3 separate regions of the Homo sapiens genome follow, and regions 1 and 3 are each linked to region 2. Evidence: fine-mapped expression QTL. A gene starts in region 2. Each other region holds a variant in brackets. All regions are shown on one strand. Distances are from middle to middle.

The links. PIP is the estimated chance that this variant, and not a neighbour inherited with it, causes the effect.
Region 1: its variant is fine-mapped to the expression of MAN2B2 in whole blood (TOPMed, PIP above 0.99).
Region 3: its variant is fine-mapped to the expression of MAN2B2 in whole blood (TOPMed, PIP above 0.99).

Annotation. Positions count from the first base shown.
Region 1 is chr4:6,692,452-6,698,831 of GRCh38, reverse strand. It overlaps S100P (S100 calcium binding protein P), which reads right to left and starts at 4,954. Exons shown (of 2, transcript NM_005980.3): 1 at 4,762-4,954; 2 at 1,662-1,939. The coding sequence starts at 4,899. The coding sequence ends at 1,790. RefSeq lists enhancers at 1,986-2,748, 3,951-4,686, 4,687-5,423, 5,733-6,270. The variant A/G (reference allele first, on the strand shown) is at 2,886.
Region 2 is chr4:6,573,312-6,578,311 of GRCh38, reverse strand. MAN2B2 (mannosidase alpha class 2B member 2) reads right to left here and starts at 3,123. Exons shown (of 19, transcript NM_015274.3): 1 at 2,964-3,123; 2 at 1,588-1,734. The coding sequence starts at 3,101. LOC105374365 (a long non-coding RNA gene) reads right to left here. Exons shown (of 3, transcript XR_925098.3): 2 at 4,705-4,803; 3 at 3,974-4,121. RefSeq lists a silencer at 2,874-3,333 and enhancers at 2,622-3,390, 3,391-4,158, 4,159-4,927.
Region 3 is chr4:6,615,136-6,621,784 of GRCh38, reverse strand. MAN2B2 (mannosidase alpha class 2B member 2) reads right to left here. Exons shown (of 19, transcript NM_015274.3): 17 at 4,293-4,405; 18 at 1,741-1,858; 19 at 1-597. The coding sequence ends at 500. Among named protein-coding and RNA genes, the nearest start is that of MRFAP1, 22 kb to the left of the region's middle. The variant C/T (reference allele first, on the strand shown) is at 4,308.

The DNA of each region.
Region 1 (6,380 bases), 120 kb before region 2:
GTGAGCTGAGATCACACCACTGCACTCCAGCCTGGCCGACAGAGCAAGACTCCGTCTCAAAAAAAAAAAAAAGATTGCAGTGAGCCACGATAGCACCACTGCATTCCAGACTGGGTGACAGGGCAAGGCCGTCTCTCAAAGGAAAAAAGAAACAAAGATTTCCATTCTGGCAGTCCACCCCTTTTGTTTCCCCCATTATTAACTTTACTTCTCCCTCATTATTAGTTTTTACTTTATTTAAATGTGTGTATCTGCTCCCATCTAACCTAACACGACTCTCTCTCTAGCAAAAATATTTGCAATCTGCAGTCCCTTCCCCAAAGAGGGATCCACCCAAGCCTCGTATTGTTGTGTCCACCTCCAAGTTCAGGATCTTTTGGTGATAGATCTTCTCTAGTGAAAATGTCTTCAAACATAGCAAGAGGCTTTAAATACTGGGTATCCAAAAAATGATAGGGGTCCTAAAACCAGATCCAGTTACCTACCTATCATCCAAGACCTCGCTTGAGTCCTTTTGGGTGCTCCCAACATTAGTGTCGTAAAACTAAATACAGGTGATGTGAGCAGTTGTTCACTGATGATTCTAATGCTCTCTTGGAATTCATTGTTTCTCTGTTATGGTGTTTCATAGTCTTTGTGGCAAAAATAGCATTGCATCATTAAAAGTATGTTACTGTCTGGGCGTGGTGGCTGAAGCCTGTAATCCCAGCACTTTGGGAGGCCGAGGTGGGTGGATCACGAGCTCAGGAGATCGAGACCATCCTGGCTAACACGGTGAAACCCTGTCTCTACTAAAAATACAAAAAATTAGCCGGGCGTGGTGGTGGGCACCTGTAGTCCCAGCTACTCAGGAGGTTGAGGCAGGAGAATGGCGTGAACCTGGGAGGCGGAGCTGGCAGTGAGCCAAGATCGCACCATTGCACTCCAGCCTGGGCAACACAGTGAGACTCCGTCTCAAAAAAAAAAAAAAAGAAAAAAAGATATGTTACTTTGCGAGGCGCAGTGGCTCACACCTGTAATCCCAGCACTTTGGGAGGTTGAGGTGGGCAGATCACCTGAAATCAGGAGTTCGAGACCAGCCTGGCCAACATGGTGACACCCCGTCTCTACTAAAAATACAAAAAGTAGCCAGGTGTGGTTTTGCGGGTGCCTGCAGTCCCAGGTACTCGGGAGGCTGAGGCAGGAGAATCACTTGAACCCAAGAGGCGGAGGTTGCAGTGAGCTGAGATGGCGCCATTGCATTCCAGCCTGGGTGACAAGAGCGAGACTCCGTCTCAAAAATAAATAAATATTAGAAGTATGTTACTTGAAGAAAACATGCTGTTTGGAGAGATGGAGGGGCCCAGGTTCAATGAGTGGCTACGTGACCGACTAAATGAATTACGAAGTAGATGAATAAATACATGGATGTGTGTACCCGAGCCTCCCTTGGGTCCAGGACATGGTGGCATTCACACGGCCAAAGGTGGGACTGTGTCTCAGTGGGCACTCAGAAGATGGCCAACAAATGGATTTTTATCGACTGCCTTGTCTTCTTCATCTGTCTCACCACTGCAGGCAGGCAATGAGTAATGAAATGACAAGTTTAATTAGTGAATTCTGTTTTGTGGGGAGAGGACACTGAGGTTTTAAGGAAATAACCAGTTTCTCTGAGACCAGGATCATTTCATAAGCATTTATTAATCAGAGGTACATGAGCAGGCTCAGCCTAGGGGAATAATTGCCAACAAACACTTTTGGGAAGCCTGGGACCATGGCTCTGCCAGGAATCTGTGACATCTCCAGGGCATCATTTGAGTCCTGCCTTCTCAAAGTACTTGTGACAGGCAGACGTGATTGCAGCCACGAACACTATGAACTCACTGAAGTCCACCTGGGCATCTCCATTGGCGTCCAGGTCCTTGAGCAATTTATCCACGGCATCCTTGTCTTTTCCACTCTAGAGGAGAGAGAGGCTCAAGGTCAGCAGTGAGGGTGCCTGTGCAGGGCCTCAGCCTCCACCAAGCACTGCTGCTGGGCAGGAGCAGGGCACCCACATCTGCGTCACCTTTGCTGTCAGGGCCAGGGCCAGCTGTGCATAGCAGACACATGGCATTCCTGGCCTTAAGAACTTGTGAGCTGCCTTCAGCTATCTGGCATGACATGAACTAACTTGTAATGTTTTTAGAGCGAATTGGAATTGTGCTCTGCGAGAGGGAGTTTCATTTTGAGTTTTTGCCGGGGGTTGTCTTTGGATTTGTAAAGTGCTTTACAGTGATGGTTGTTCTCAGGAAATGCATCCAGTCTTTGCTCTATTTTTTGTGCACTGCTAACTTCATGGGCCTCCCATCTCGTGCTGGCACTGAACTAGCTGCTTACACAAACAGGAACTCCTCAACACCACCAGACACGGCAGAGGCATCGCCCTGTTACAGATGAAGATGATAAGGCCCAGAGGGCCCAAGGGACCTGCCCTGAAGTCACACAGGGAGCCGGGGAAAGCCAGGGTTGAGCCCCAGGTGTGGAGCGAGCATGGAGCAAGCACCCTGAGCCCTGTTCTTCCTCTCTGCTTGGGTCCCAAGCTCTCAGGTCTTCTTTGAGAAGGCCAGGCCGGCAGGGCTCTCAGAGCCTGCCCATGTGATAGCAAAGCGTTCTCACTGTGGGACCAAGCGGGACCAGGATGCAGATCTGAACAGCAGCAGCAGGGTGTGCTGATGACCCAGCCCTGGGCCAGAGAGCTGTGTGTCCAGGTGGAAAGAAACACAATTAAAATTGGTAGAAACATATCATCTGACCAAGACACAACTGTGTGCATGAAGACCTTAGTGACAGCATGGTTTGCAATAGCAAAAGTAAGGCAGGGAAGTACAAATTCAATAGCAAACAAATAGTGGTATGGCCATGTC[A/G]CAATACCCTGCGGCCATTTCAAGTGATGTTTACAAAGTTTGTAGGCAGACAGTCACCTCGTATTTACAAAGCTCCGACTGTGCGGGGCGCTGGGTTGGGCACGGAGCAGATAGGGCCAGAAGGCCAGCCCAGCCCAGCCCTGCCCTCAGGCGGACATTGTTCTCTGACTCCGGCTTTGCTGGGCTTCAGCAGCCTCCGGAGGGAGGGCTGAGAAGGGCACCCAGGGCCTCCCCGAGGTGATTCTAATGTAACACATTAGCTGGACCCCCAGCTTTGCCATTGCTTCTCAAAGTGTGTTCCCAGGACACCTGTGCCTGCCCCTCCCCACACCCCAGTATCTTGGATCAAAGTCCTCATGGGTTCAATTCTCATACTTTGATCATTATCAGAACACCCCGAGCCCCAAGCCCAAGTTCCCAGGATGGGGCTGGGGTGTTTAATGAACATCAGAGTTTGAGAATTTATGTTGTAATGTTAAGCTCAAAAAGAAATTACATTGCATGTAAATCTCACTCACAGCAATGTTCATATGGGGAAAAGGCTGGAAGGGAGAGGAAGCGTCTGTATTCCAGGGGGGATTTCTTCCCTCCATATTTATCTATTTTTACATTTTCTACCAAAAACAGAACTTTATTTTTAAAAGATATCTTTACAGAATTCACATTTAGAAAATAGAACTAGGCCAGGTGTCGGGGCTCACGCCTGTAATCACAGCACTTTGAGATGTCGAGGCTGACGCATTGCCTGAGCACAGGAGTTTGAGACCAGCCTGGGCAACATGGTGAGACCTTGTCTCTAAAAAAAATACAAAAATTAACCGGGTATGGTGACATGCACCTGTAGTCCCAGCTACTCGGTAGGCTGAGGTGGGAGGATCACCTGAGCCCAGGGAGGTCGAGGCTGCAGTGAGCCGTGATCCTGCCACTGCACTCCAGCCTGGGTGACAGAGTGACATCTTGTCTCAAAAAAAAAAAAAAAGAAAAGAAAAGAAAATAGAAGCAATATTCTGAAGTGTTTCATGTCTTTGAAGTGATTCTAGGGCTGAAAATTTCAGGCTTTCATTTTTGATTATCAGCATCTATGTGGGTTAGCCCCTTAGCAGGTAGGCAGAGTCTGGTGGGGCCCGAAGGGGAGGGGAAGGAAGGAAGAAAGTGGGGGAGTGAGAAAGAAGGAGAGGACAGGGGTCAAAGGGAAGGGGAAATGGAGAGGGTACGGCTTCTGTTCAGCCCAGCCGGAGGCTGCCCCGGGCGGAAGGAAGCTGGTCCTGGCCGCCCTGAGGGGCCTTCTGTGAGGCTCAGGCCGGTGGCTCCTCCCTGGCAGGGAGCCCAAGGGAGGTCCACAGCTCTGCGCAGACAGGTGCCAGGATGGAGCCTCCTCCCGTCCTTCCTGCCAGACCCACTAATACCAGGCAACAAGGGGCCTGGGAATGGGAGCAGGGAAAGCGGGCAAGTGGGAGGCAGAGCTGGGGCGTTTATGGCCGGCAGCCTTGGAGGACAGCCCCGAGGGCTCAAGGGCTTGGCAAGCTTGGCAAACTTGCAAATGGCAGCCCTGGATTGCATTCCGCCCCTGCCCCCACTGCACAGGTTTGAGTCCCACTCTCCCACCAGGCCTGTCACAAATACACTGGGGTCAACCCCATGTTTCAAGGATCAAGCTGACCACACCCTCTCCCTGCTCAGATGCTCCCGCCTCCCCTGCCTTTATGCCAGGGTGGGTCCGTTCCTTGGCTGGGCTTCCAGGGCATTTCAGGATCTGTCCCTCTTGCCTCTGAGCCCCTTGACCGCCGACCCCACCGCAGCTCTCAGCCCTCTGCCTGCCACGCCTTCCCCTTCTTCCCCAGCCCCCGCTGAGTCCAGCACTGCCGGCCTGGCTCACCTGCAGGAAGCCTGGTAGCTCCTTCTCCATCAGCACCTTGAGCTCCCCCTTGGTCAGGGTCTGCGTGCTGCCCTCGCTGCCCGAATATCGGGAAAAGACGTCTATGATCATGCCCATGGCTGTCTCTAGTTCCGTCATGGTGCTAGATTCAGACCCACCTTCCTCCTGGGGGCTGGCAGGGCCGAGAAAATGTCCCACTGGCAGCCTCTTGGTGCTTTATAAGGCAGCCTCATATTGACACAGAGGGTGGGACAGTGGGGTTGGGACATTCAGGAAGTCCTGCCCCTCCCCATTCATGTGCTCAGTTCTGATGAAATGCATCGTTGTGATGACGTTTCTGGAACCTTTCCCCCAGCCAAGGCCCAGGGTGTGGGCTGCCTCCAGGCATCCACATTTTACAGTGTTCACCTGTGTCTCGGCGCCATCACTGAGCCACAGTGGCATCCTCATTCCTGGCCCTCCCTGGGTAAGTGGGCACGGGGTGAGTGTGTGTGGAGTGAGTGGTGACTCCGTGGCCCTTTGTGTCAATATCAGAGCGTGCTGGCACCCAGCGTGCTGACACGAGGAGACATCTGAGAGTGAATTCACATGGGCGTGTTTGTGAACATGGATCTGCCCCATCGTCCCTTTCTTAGAGCACTCTGTGTCCTTCAGAGGCCCAGCTTCCACGTCAATCTCGCTCGCTCCTCCCCTGTGGGGCCAAACAGAAAACTCCCCTTCATCCTCTGGGAGTTTGCTGAAAATCAACGGGCAGAAGGCAGATGAATAGGAGAAGAGCATAACAGATGTATTTGATCATAGCTTATGTGGCACGGCAGCCTTCAAGATGAAGATCCAAAGATCTGGTGGAAACTATCCATAAACACAGTTCAGCGAAGTATGGAAATATGATTGGATACAAAAGTAAGGCTGGATGCTCACAGACCAAGAGGAGAGCCTGGTAGGGCCTGTTGAGTCAGATTCCCTGGGGCCTCTCTGAGCAGCTCTCCTTCCTTCTAGGTGTGGGGCAGGACTCTTTCTGGAATGGAGCTCTTATGACCTACAGTCAAATAAAGCAGGCCAGAGGGTTTCTTTAGGCTGGTTTCTACACAGAAAGGGGAGGGAGTGGAGAACTGGAGTCATATTTCTGGGTTTTATGGCAGGGTTTGGGGAAGCCTCTCAGAGGAGGAGGAGCTGGAGACAGGAGGGTGGGAGCAGGACAGAGAAACTTTTGTTTCTGAGGCTTCCACGTTGGGGTGTTGTTTTTTGAGCCCCGGCACTTACCAAACCCAAATCACCCACAGGGCTTAGACGGCACAAAGGCTCCTGGGACTCTGGGCAGAGTCAGGGACAGTCACACCCCTCCCCGTCTCTATAGCGGAGGTACTCAGAGGGTCTGTGCTTGGGAGGCTGAGCGAGTCCTGGAGAGCATGGAGGTAGGGGCCTGTGTTCACATCCTGCCCCGGTCAAAGTAGGCCCACACTCAAAGGCCTCTCTCTCAGCAGAGATCTTCCAGAGTGTCAGCCTCCAGCAAGTTCCCTAACCTCTCCCAACACAGCCTCCACCAGCACATGGGCCGAGACTCTCCCCACGGGGCTGTGGCTCAACATAGAAAAACCTTGGTGCACGATGGCAGCAGC
Region 2 (5,000 bases):
CCACACACGCCCTGCATAAAACTCCCCACCCTTGCTTACTCTATAAAAGCAGGGCACTGTCTGTCCTGGTCCACACTGTGTTCCCACCACCTAGAAATCATGCAGCCCTCAGGTGGTATTTGAGATATATATTTGTATATATAAGATTTTCTTAAATCTTATTTTATTAACTAATTCTAAACTTTAGAAAAGTTTCAGGAATAGAACAAAGAGCTCCCATATCCTTTCCCAAGGTTCACTCATCACTACCATTTTTAACCTATTTGCTTAACATCCCCGTCTCTACACACATAACACCTTTGTTGCCCTAGACACTACACACCTCAGTATGTGTACACACAGCTGTTTATAGGCTGTGCCTTTGGTTTGTTTCTTAAGGTGCACTATATGTAGATCATTCACTCAACAAATGTTAAGTGAGCACCTACTACACAACCAGCACTGTTCAGGCACTGGGGGTTCAGCAGTGAATGAAGCAGGCAACAATTCCTGCCTCCAGGGAGCTCTGCCACAAGTTTCCTGTCCAGGTCTTCACTGGGCCATGCAGGCCATGCTTCTCTTTGAGGGCTAGGAGACAGACCACTGGGTTTGGTGGGGTCCACCTGAAGAAGCATGGGACGCTCACAGGATATCCTGGAAAGGCCTGCCTCGAGTCAGGCATGCCTGGCTCAGAATCCCACCTGCCGCTTACAAGCTGTGTGACTGCAGGCCAGTGGCGTGCCCTCTCTGAACCTGGAATGTCTCTTTAACTTGAGGTAAGAACCCCACTATCTGGCAGCATCAAGTGGCCATTGGATGTCCGGCTCCTTCCCGTGACTCTGGCGGGGCCTGGTGGACGCCCTGCTCTCCCTTCTCCGCTTCACTCCCTTGAGCAAGTCACTTGGCGTCCCTGAACTTTATGTTCAGCAACTATTCTGAAGGCAGGTGGATACCTGGGAGGAAACTAAGAACCCCCGAGTATCGTCCTGGGTGCTCACGCCAGGGCTTCATTCTTGGCATGACTTTTCTGCAATGGGGCGGTCACCCCCGTTTAATAGAAGTGGAATCTGTGGCTCGCAGGGGCTAGTCGTGTCCCCTGGTGCGGGAGCAGGATGGGACCCAGGCTGCCTCACTGTGCAGCGGGGACTCTGACTCTCCATGCTGTATGAAGCAACCTGCTGCCTACCCTCAAACCACAGGGACTATCGCACCCTCATCAAGGGTCACCAGACCCTGGGCCCGGGGGCCAGGCAGATAACACAAATGAGAGAAGAGGGTGAGGGCTTGGGGACACCTGGGATGCCTGGTGTCAGGGGGCACTGCTGACTTAGTGCCAGCTGGCACGGAAGTGCACAGCTGGGTTGCCAGAGCTGGCAGTTTTTTCAAGAATAGACAGAAATTCAGGATTAAATTGAAAGCAATCTCTCCCAGGCATGGAACTCACCGTGAACCTTGATCTAAACAAGGCTGTGAATAGCCCGGTGGGGTTTTGGCCCTGTGGTTTATGCCAGCCTGGCCCTGGCCCTGGCTAGAACTGCCCCATTGAGTTTTCCACCTGGGTCTTTGCCAGGATACTGGGCCAACTGTGTCACCTGGTGACCTCATTACCTGGTATTTCTGCTGGTCCGAGGCGACGCCATCCCACCACAGCCGGAAAAACTCCTGCTCCACAGCGATGAACCGGCGCTGCTGGCCGCGGGCCAGCTCTTCCACCACTGAGGTGTAGACATTGGCGGCGTACGCCCGCATGCTTTCCTGGGGAGGGGACAGCATCATGCCAGCCCCGGTCCAACAAGACCAAGTGTCCCTGGGGCCCCTGCCATTCGCCAGGTGTGTCTGCATGGGGTTGGGGGCTCTGCCCTTCCTTCCCTGCTGCTCACCCCCCACACAGCTATTAGGCACTCGCTCCATACCAGGCTCTCCCCACTGGATGGGATCGTGCTCTCCTGGGGGAGAGGGACGGGGAAACAGACACCCTACATGGGCAGAGACAGGTGCCCTCCCAGCCCAGGGGTCAGGGACAGTTTCTCAGAGGGGTGAGCAAGCTGGGCCTTGAGTGTGCAATTTGGGGGGCTGGGCCCTGAGTGTGCCATTGAGGGGCAGCACAGGAAAGTCTTAGGCCTCAGTCGGGGTGTGGTCCAGTGACCCCAAAGGGGCCTGCTGGGGCTGAAATGAGGAAAGCTGGTGCTGAGAGGAAGAGCTCCCCAGGCTGTCCCTGGCGTCTAGGCGTCTGCCTCCCCAAGGCTGGGAGCTCCAAGGACCACAGCTGTAGTGTGTTCCCATCCGAGTCCCGAGGGCCCTGCACACAGGGTGCCCACAGAGTGCTTACATGAATGGAAGGAGCACCGAGCAGGGAGTCAGGAGGCATGAGGGTTATTCCCGAGCGACCTTGGGCAAGGCAGCAACCCTCTCTGGGCCTCGGTTTTCTCCTCTGGAAACTGGCTGTAGTGGGCATGCTTCCCCTACCCTTTACAGATGGGGAAACTGAGGCTTAGGGACCAAAGCCCCTCGCCCAAGGTCCTGAGCAGAACCAGGAGGTGACCACAGGTCCACCTTCACCCCTGTCCTGGGGGGCGGAGGACGCTGAGCTGGCCTCCAATATTCAGCCCCGCAGGGGACCAGCCCGGCCCCTTCCCAGCGGGCACCTGACATCCACCTGCTCTGAAGCCAGCCCCACCCTCTCCTGCTCCAGGCTTCCCTGGAAAATGGGTTACCACTGTCAACCCCCAAGCCCCTCCCCAGCCGGGAATGCAGGGGTCCCTCCAATCTGCACCACCCTCCAGAAGGGGAAATGGGGGTTCAGAGGCAGGAAGTGACTGGCCCGAAGTTAGCGACGCAACCAGTCAATGGCAGCGTGGGGTCCTGAACCCACTGAGCCTCCTTCTGCGCCGGCATCGGGCCCCGGGACGCAAACCCACACTCAGATCCCGCGGGGAGAGGGAAGCTGCAGCCTCAGGGGCGCGCGGGGCGTGGTCGGCACCTACCTGCACAGTGTAGACCCAGCCCACGTCCATGTGGCTGTGGGGCACCACGAAGGCCCGGATGGGGCCGGCGGACTGGACCCCTGGCGGTCGCAGCAACAGGAGCGGTGCCAGCAGCGGCAGCCAGCACAGCTGCCCCATCCCTGCGGCAGGCCGGGAAGGTGCCAGGCCCACTTCCGGGTCCGCGAGGGGCGGGGCGGCCGCGCGGGCGGGGACGCGGCCCATTGGCTGCGGGCGGGGGCGGGGCCCATTGGTTGCCGGCTGGACGCCGACCCCGGGAAGCTCGGGAAGGAGGAGCTGGAGGCGCGGGGCCCTCAGCGGGGCAGGGCGCCTGCTCTTTGCGGTTTAGCTCTCCATCCCCGTCTCCAGCTTTCTGGCCTTCCCTCCCTGTCCATCCTTTCAGCCCCATCTCCCCCAAGCCTGCCAGATCTCCCCCAACCAGAGGAGACCCCTCCTCGCCCAAAGCCCACGCTCTGGTGGTTCCTCTCGGAGCGTGTGCCTCTTCGCAATACCTGCATCCCGCCCTCTGGACTCGGCTCCGGGACTCTGAGGCTACCGTGCAAAATTCGGCTCAGCACGGACCCTGTGAGCTCTGCCACCAGGAACCTTCCCTGATAACCCTTTCCCTCCTCTCCCTGGCGTCGAAACCCCATCTGGGCGGCGCCATGGGGGGCTTGTTATGGGACTGTCTCCTTTTTTTTTTTTTGGACAGGATCTCACTCTGTCTCCCAGGCCGGAGTGCAGTGGCGCGATCAGGGCTCACTGCAGCCTTGACCTCCCGGGCCCAAGTGATCCTCCCACCTCAGCCTCCTGAGTAGCTGGGACCACAGGGGCACACTGCCACACCCAGCTAATTAAAAAAAAAATTTATAGAGATGGGGGCCTCACTATGTTGCCCAGGCTGGTCCCAAACTCCTGAGCTCAAGCGATCCTCCTGCCTCCGCCTCTCAAAGTGCTGGGATTACAGGCATAAACCAGCATGCCTGGCTCAACTGTCTCCATTTTAAGGAGGAGAACTGGCTTTCAGAGACAGTAACTGACTTGTCCAAGATCACGCAGTTAGTGGAGGAGCCAAGAGAAGCTTTCTGGGTTACTGGATGGTGACCTGGGGCGACATAGGTAACCTCGCTGAGCCTCAGTGAAATGGGTCCGATAGAGGAGCTGTGAACAAAGTAAGGATGCACCCAGGCTGAGAGCGTGAGCACAGCACCCCTTGCCTGCACTCAGGGGAGGTGCGGTCACATTGGTGCAGCCTGTTTGGGACTGTTGCCTGGAGTCAGCCCTGTCCACTACTCCCTGCCCAAGAAAGCAAGGGTCTGTGGCTTGGGGTTTACTGTCTGAGAACCACTTGGCTGTGCCCCTGCCTGGCATTTCCTAGCGGAACCAGAGCTGCAGCTCTGAGCAAAAGTGCTGGTCCTCTTGTCCATTATGTAACAAATGGAAACTGAGAACAGGTTCTCCAAGCAGGTCTCCCTCCTCCTTCTGTCCTGTCCACCCCCTGGGGACCCCTGCATCCCCATAGCCTCAGGTCAGATGGTCTGAGCCTGACGTGGACAGTACTCACTAACACATGTCCCCATGACCGGCCAGGCTCACAGCTGGGCTCCACTCTCCAGCCTCTGCAACCAGGTGCGGCCACGTGGCTAAGTGCTAGTCAATGGGATGGGTGGGGGCGGGCACTGTGCTCCTCTTCCAGGCTGGCCCCTAACAACCTCCTGTGGGTGAGCCCTGCTCTCTTACTCACCCACTGCTCCAGTGGAGGGCACTCCGAGGACCTCAGGGAGGTTAGAGCCACCAATGGAGGCTCTGAAGAACCACATGGAACCATGAGGAACCCAAAGAGCTGTGACAAGAGGGAGAAATAAGCTTTAATTGTGTTAAGCCACTGAGTTTATCGATAAGGCAGTGTCACAATCTTTGGCAGACTGTATCTGCCAAAGATGGGCTCCACAACATTACCCACCCCCCAAGCTCTTTGTAGAATTTGGTTGACGAGAAAAGCCACACTCTAAAATATCTCAGAACGTTTATTCTAAGCCA
Region 3 (6,649 bases), 43 kb before region 2:
GCTACAACTTCCTCTCCTGCCCTGTGGCAGAGCCAAGCCCCTTGCAGGGCTGTTGCCAGCATGGGATGAGTCTATGAAAACACGTGGCACGCAGTAGGTCCACAGTTACCACTGGCAGCCTGGCAAGCCTGGCAGGGCCCGGACGGCAGATGCGCTTCGGTGCTGCTGTGAGTCTTGTGCTCTGCCTTAGGCAGAAAGTCCTGGGTTTGTGTTTTGTGAATGAATGACGCATGAGTGTGCCAAATATCCTTTACGTGACAGAAGAGGAGAGGGCTGGCTTGATTGAGTGTGGGGGGGAAGAACCTGGATCTTGTAATGTAATTTTTGTTTAAAAAAATTAGGGAAAAACCCCAAATATGACCATTTCCTGCCATTAGCCTGCAGATGAGCAGCTGACTCCCCAGTCCCATCCCTCCGCACTGCTTTTCCCTGTCCTGGGTCTGTTCTGTTACATGGAGTTCCTGGGGGAAGCCCTGGGGCCGGGGCATCTGCCCAGGGCTCACTGCTGTTGAAAGTGAATAAAGAACGTCCGGATTTCCTTTGGGTGGACGGTGATGATGGGGCCTCCTGGTGGCCTCGAGGGAGAGGTGGTGTCACCTAGGGGAACAGAGGTGATCTGTCCAGTGTGGCCTGGGATGCCTCCTCCCAGCCTCCCTCTCACCCCCTGCACCTGTCTACAGTCTGCTGTGGCTCCCAGCCTCCCTCTCACCCTCCTGCACCTGTCTACAATCTGCTGTGGCTCCCAGCCTCCTTCTCACCACACTGCACCTGGCTACAGTCTGCTGTGGCTCCCACCGTGGCAACGGCCTATGGCATCCCCTTCTGCCAGGACTCCTGTGGGCCTCTTGGCGTTTCTGCCCACCCTGAGGGCAATTCATAGGTTGGTCCTGGCCCTAGTGGCCTCAATTCCTCATGGGTGTTGCCCTCAAAGCCCAAGAGCTTTCTGAGACCATCTGGTGAGTCTGCCCTTGCCTCACCAGGCTCCCCTGAAGGCATGCCCTGGGGTTGGGCTTCGATCTTGGGAGGGAGCCGTCCACTTATCTATCACTCATCCATCTTCCTTCCTTCTTTCCAACCAACATCATCTTCCCTCCCTCCCTCCCTCCGTCCCTTCCTTCCTCCCACCACCAACTGAGCGTGCACCATGCACCCGCCACCATGCTGTGTGTAGTGGACAACGAGCTGCACAGGACAGAAGAAACCCCTGGGGCCAGGAGAGTGGAGGAGGCACTTGGCCTGGTTGGTGACTCTGGGGAGGCATCCTGGGGAGCTTGAGCAGGTGCTGGCCAGAGTGAATGGGACCTGTGCGTCCCAGGCAGAGGGCATGGTGCGGACAGGGAGTGGAGCCTGGAAGCTGCCTGTAGTGCAGGAGCTCACGGTGGCACATGTCGTATGAGGCAGGGACCGGCTGATGGGCTGAGGTCAGCAGGGCCAAGGTGGGCAGAAGCCCCTGGGCCCCTAGCTGTCACCCAGGGCACAGGCAGGGCGTGTGGTCTGCGTGTGCACACGTACAAGTGCACACACACGCCTGTGTGGAGCCCTGGCAGGCAGAGACTAACCCAAAGCCTTTCTTAACCGACTGTAGTAGATTTGGGAGGGCTGCGGGTTCAGAGTAGGAAAGCAGCCTCGCAAGGTCGCACAGGCCGGGACAGGCAGATGGTTGGATGTGCACCGGGTCTGACCAGCTGCTGAGCCTGGCTGGGAGTCCTGGGTAGGGAGCTGAAGCGGGGGTCCCCAAACCTCTGTGGCGGCCAGGCCCCGTCCTCCAGCTCCAGCGGTGCAGCATGCTCAAATCCCAGGTCCCTGTGAGCGAGCGCTCCTCCACTGCCACCACGGACCCCAGCGCCTGCAGCACAGCCTGCAGGGAGAGGAGCAGAGGGAGAGTGAGCTGCACCAAGTTCCAGAGCTGAGCAGAGAACCAAGACAGCAGCAGGGCAGACACACCACGAACTCGGTGTCCTCAGGAGCCCAGGTCCTCCCCTGGTGCCTGACACAGCTCCCTCATCTGCTTCTCACAGCACATCTGCGAGGACAGGACTGGCCGTGTACTTTACAGATGAGGACACTGAAGCGGGAGGTGCATGCTTTACCAGGTGGCCGAGCTGGAGGAGCAGCCCGGGAGGTGTGGCATTTTGAGCTGCCCACCCCACCGCGGAGTTCTCCTCTCCCCACATTGCTCAGGTGGCCCCGTGCCCAGTCCAGGGAGGAAGCCAGCCACAGTTACCCCATCCCCCTTTCCCAATAGGCCTTGTCCCAGCCTCCCTTACACCTAGGGGAGGCAGGAGGCCCTTAGGGGTCTGGAAAAGTCTGTGGAGCAGGAGGGCTGGGGGTGGCTCTTGGAGAAGCTTCTGTGTGCTGACGGAGGGAGAGAGCCACGCTAGGGCAAGGCCTTTCTGGCCACTACTGCTGAGCCCTACCCTGCCTTGAAATTTGCTCATGAGGGAGGCCTGTGCCATCTTGTGACCGCAAACAAGCAGACGGCAAAAGACAAAAGCCAGTCTGCCGGCGATGGCGGGAAGATGACAGTGATCGGGCCCACGGTGACAGCGCTTGGGGTCCATCGGACATGCCTGTTCGGTGAGAAAACACTCTGTCCTCTGTTCTAAGCACATCTGTTAGGTGTTTTGTGACTTGCAGCCAAACTCACTGCGTTCCTAACTCAATGGTCTTTCCACCCCACCACCGTCCACGTTGGGCAGGGAGTCATGGTGTCCATCCCAACCGTCTCCTTGTCTCAGGGCCTTGGTGCTTCCATCTGTGAAACGGGGGAGCATCAGATGACCAACTTCCAGGTCCCACGCTGGCCTCCTTGCTTCCCAGGGCAGGCTGGCCCTGTGCTGGGCACTGGTACCCGCCATGGCCTAGACCTGCTCTCAGGCAGGCCAGGGACCGTGAGGAAAGGATCCTCCGTGGCGAGGATCATGAAAGAGGAGGTGGGTGGCCCAGTAAGACATCATGGCGAAAAGGTACTGGGGCTTCTCTGGATTCCCCTGAAGACTCAGATGTCGAAGGAGGCCCAAGGCAGAAACACAGAGATTCACAGAAATTCTCCATGAGCAGGAAATGAAATAGAAAGAATGCAAACTGGGAAAGAAATGAGGCGGCTCAGGTCATGCCTTCTGGGGAGGGAGCGTGGGCAGGCCAGGTGGCGGAAGCCTCGCCTGATAGTAGAGCTGAGAGGGCAACATCAGCCAAGAGGGGAACCTGGAAGGGGACGAGGCCTGGGGGCCCTGACACTGCACGAGGCCCCTTAGTGCCAGGGCCTCTCAGCAACCTTCTGGGCAAAGAACTCTCACCTCTCCCCATTTTACATGGGGGGAAACTGAGGCCCAGAGGCATGGGGTGCCGGAGATGCCCCCGTAGAGGGGCCTGGGTGTGGACCCTGGATTGTCTGACTCTAAGTCACCTTTCAAAGCAACTCTATGGGGAATCTGTTTTGTTTTTGGATTACACAGATGTTGTCTGTGTTTTAAAAGTTTTACCACAGAATAAATAAGAAAGAAAATACAGGCCACTCACGCCTGTAATCCCAGCACTTCAGGAGGCTAAGACAGGCAGATTGCTTGAGGCCAGACGTTCGAGACCAGCCTGAGCAACACAGCAAGACCGTGTCTCTACTAAAAATAAAAAAACTAGGCCAGGCTTGGTGGCTCACGCCTGTAATCCCAGCACTTTGCGAGGCCGAGGCAGGTGGATCACCTGAAGTCAGGGGTTCGTGACCAGCCTGACCAACATGGAGAAACCCTGTCTCTACTAAAAGTACAAAAAAATTAGCCGGGCGTGGTGGCACATGCCTGTAATCCCAGCTACTCGGGAGGCTGAGGCAGGAGAATCACTTGAACCTGGGAGATGGAGGTTGCAGCCAGCTGAGAGCGCACCATTGCACTCCAGCCTGGGGGACGAGAGCGAAACTCGGTCTCAAAAAAAAAAAAAAAAACTTAGCCATCGTGGTGGCGCGCCCCTGTGATCCCAGTTACTTGGGAGGTTGAGGTGGGAGGATCACTTGAGCCAGGGAGGCAGAGGTTGCAGTGAGCTGAGATTGTGCCACTGCACCCCAGACTGGGCAACAGAGTGAGATCCTGTCTCACATATACACAAAAAACCCTAAAAAACCAGGCCAGTTGTAATACCTGACAAACCCAGAAGACCATGAAGAAGGGCGGGGTGGGGCCCATACCAGCGTCCATTTGGGAGGAAGCCCTCGTGGATCTCTTTGCCAAGGCAGTTTCTTGGGGCTTCATCTAGGGTTTGCTTCCCTGGCTTATGGTCTGGATGGGGGTGGGGAAGTTCACCTCCAGATTCACTGT[C/T]ACTGGCTGAGACAGGACTGGGTCCTCGCCCACTTCATATAGGTGGTAGAGCCGCAGCAGGACACGGCGGAGGTCAGCCTGGGCTTCCCCTCGATGGCCTTTGGGGACAGAAGGAAGGTGGCAGTGAAGACCCTCATCAACCAACCCCAATGTCCCTGGTCTATACCCGCTGCTTTACACACTCAGCTCCATTTCCTATCTGTAACCTCCTCGATATGGTTTGGCTGTGTCCCCAACCAAATCTCATCGTGAATTGTAGCTCCCATAATGTCCACATGTTGTGGGAGGGACCTGGTGGGAGGTAATTGAATCATGGGGGTGAGTCTTTCCTGTGCTGTTCTTGTGATAGTGAATAAGTCTCATGAGACCTGATGATTTTGTAAAGGGCAGTTCCCCTGCACACGCTCTCTTGCCTGCCACCATGTAAGACGTGACTTTGCTCCTCATTTGCCTTCTGCCATGATTGTGAGGCCTCCCTATCCAGGTGGAACTGTGAGTCCATTAAACCTTTTTTCTTCATAAACTACCCAGTCTCGGGTATGTCTTTATGAGCAGCATGAGAACAGACTAATAGACTCCATGTGAGACAGCTGACATGGCCCCCACTCGACAAGGAAACCAAGGCTCAGAGAGGGGCAGTCACGTGCCCAAGGCATACAGCTGGTGCGCGGCAGAGGGAGGATTCCCACCCAGGTCTGGCCGACTGTAAGGCTGCCCACCATGACACCAGCTGCAATGTTTCCATCCTCGTCCACTGTTGTGGGCATATTGGGGCATGTCCTCAAATACTCCAGTCTCTCCTACCCTGCCCCCTTTGAAGTCAGGGGAGGCTGCGTGGCCTCTGTGGCCAATGCAAAGTGAGCTGAAGTGACGCAGTACTTCCCGGCAGAAGCTTTTTCTTGCCATGGTGAGTGAGGAAGCACGTGCTGCAATACAAACTCCATCAGCGGGGGGCGTGGTGGCCACAGCAAGAAAAACCTTCCTGCTAACCCCACTGGATGCACAGCATGGGGGAGAAATGAATATATACTGTTAAGACCGTGGGCATTCGGGGCTCTTTGTTACTGCAGCATACGCCAGCCACCCTGACTGATATAATGCTGTCATTTGCCACATGATGTATGTGATCTCCTGTCCCATCCCTGATCTTCCCACTCAGAAAGGCTCATTGCCATTGCTCCCGTTTTACAGATGGGAAGACCGAGGCTCAGAGGAAAGCACTGAGTTCAAGGTCCTGGAGAGAGGACCTGGTTAACACAGGTGCTTCCTAAACCCTGGCTGGTAGAACCTCAGCTCTGCAGCTATGCCTCAAAGCTGACTAAATCAATCTGTCTGGGATTAGAATTGAGGCATCAGTATTAAAAAAAAAATTTTGGCAGGGTGTGGTGGCTCACACCTGTAATCGCAGCACTTTGGGAGGCCAAGGAGGGCGGATTGCCTGCTGTCAGGAGTTTGAGACCAGCCTGGTCAGCACAGTGAAACCCTGTCTCTATTAAAAATACAAAAATTAGCTGGGCATGGTGGTGGGCACCTGTAATCCCAGCTACTCGGGAGGCTGAGGTAGGAGAATTGCTTGAACCTGGGTGGTGGAGGTTGCAGTGAGCCAAGATCACACCACTGCACTCCAGCCTGGGCAACAGATTGAGACTCTGTCTCAAAGAAAAAAAAAATTTTTTTAGAGACAGGGTCTTGCTCTGTTGCCCAGGCTGGAGTGCTGTAGCATGATTACAGCTCACTGCAGCCTTGAACTCCTGGCCTCAAGTGATCCTTTCACCTCAGCCTCCTGAGTAGCTGGGACCACAGGCAAGCATCACCACACCCGCCTAATTTTTTAATTTTTTTTTGTAGAGACAGAGTCTAGCTATGTTGCCCAGGCTGGTCTCGAACTCCTGGCCTGAAGTGATCCTGCTACCTCGGCCTCCCAAAGTGCTGGCATTACAGATGTGAGCCACCTTGCCTGGCCCATTTTTAAGAAGCTATCATGGGGCTATGGGGTAGCTGGTTTTCAGAATGGCACAGGGGAATGACTGCCCAAGATCACAAAAGCCAAGAGGTTTGTGAAAGTGCTTCTACATCTCCTGGTGTGGTGGTGAGGAGTTCCAGCTCCAAAGTCAGGGAAGGCCTCCTGTGTCCCACACAGCAGGAATGGTGAGGGATCCCATTTCACAAGGCGGCTGCAGGTGCCTGGGAAAGCAGGCTCAGGCACACGCCACCATGACCAGAGAACTTTTCTATTTTTATTTTTATAGACACAGGATCTTCCTATGCTGCCCAGGCTGGTCTTGAACTCCTGGGCTCAAGCAATCCGCCTGCCTCGGATCCCCTAAGTGCTGGGATTCCAG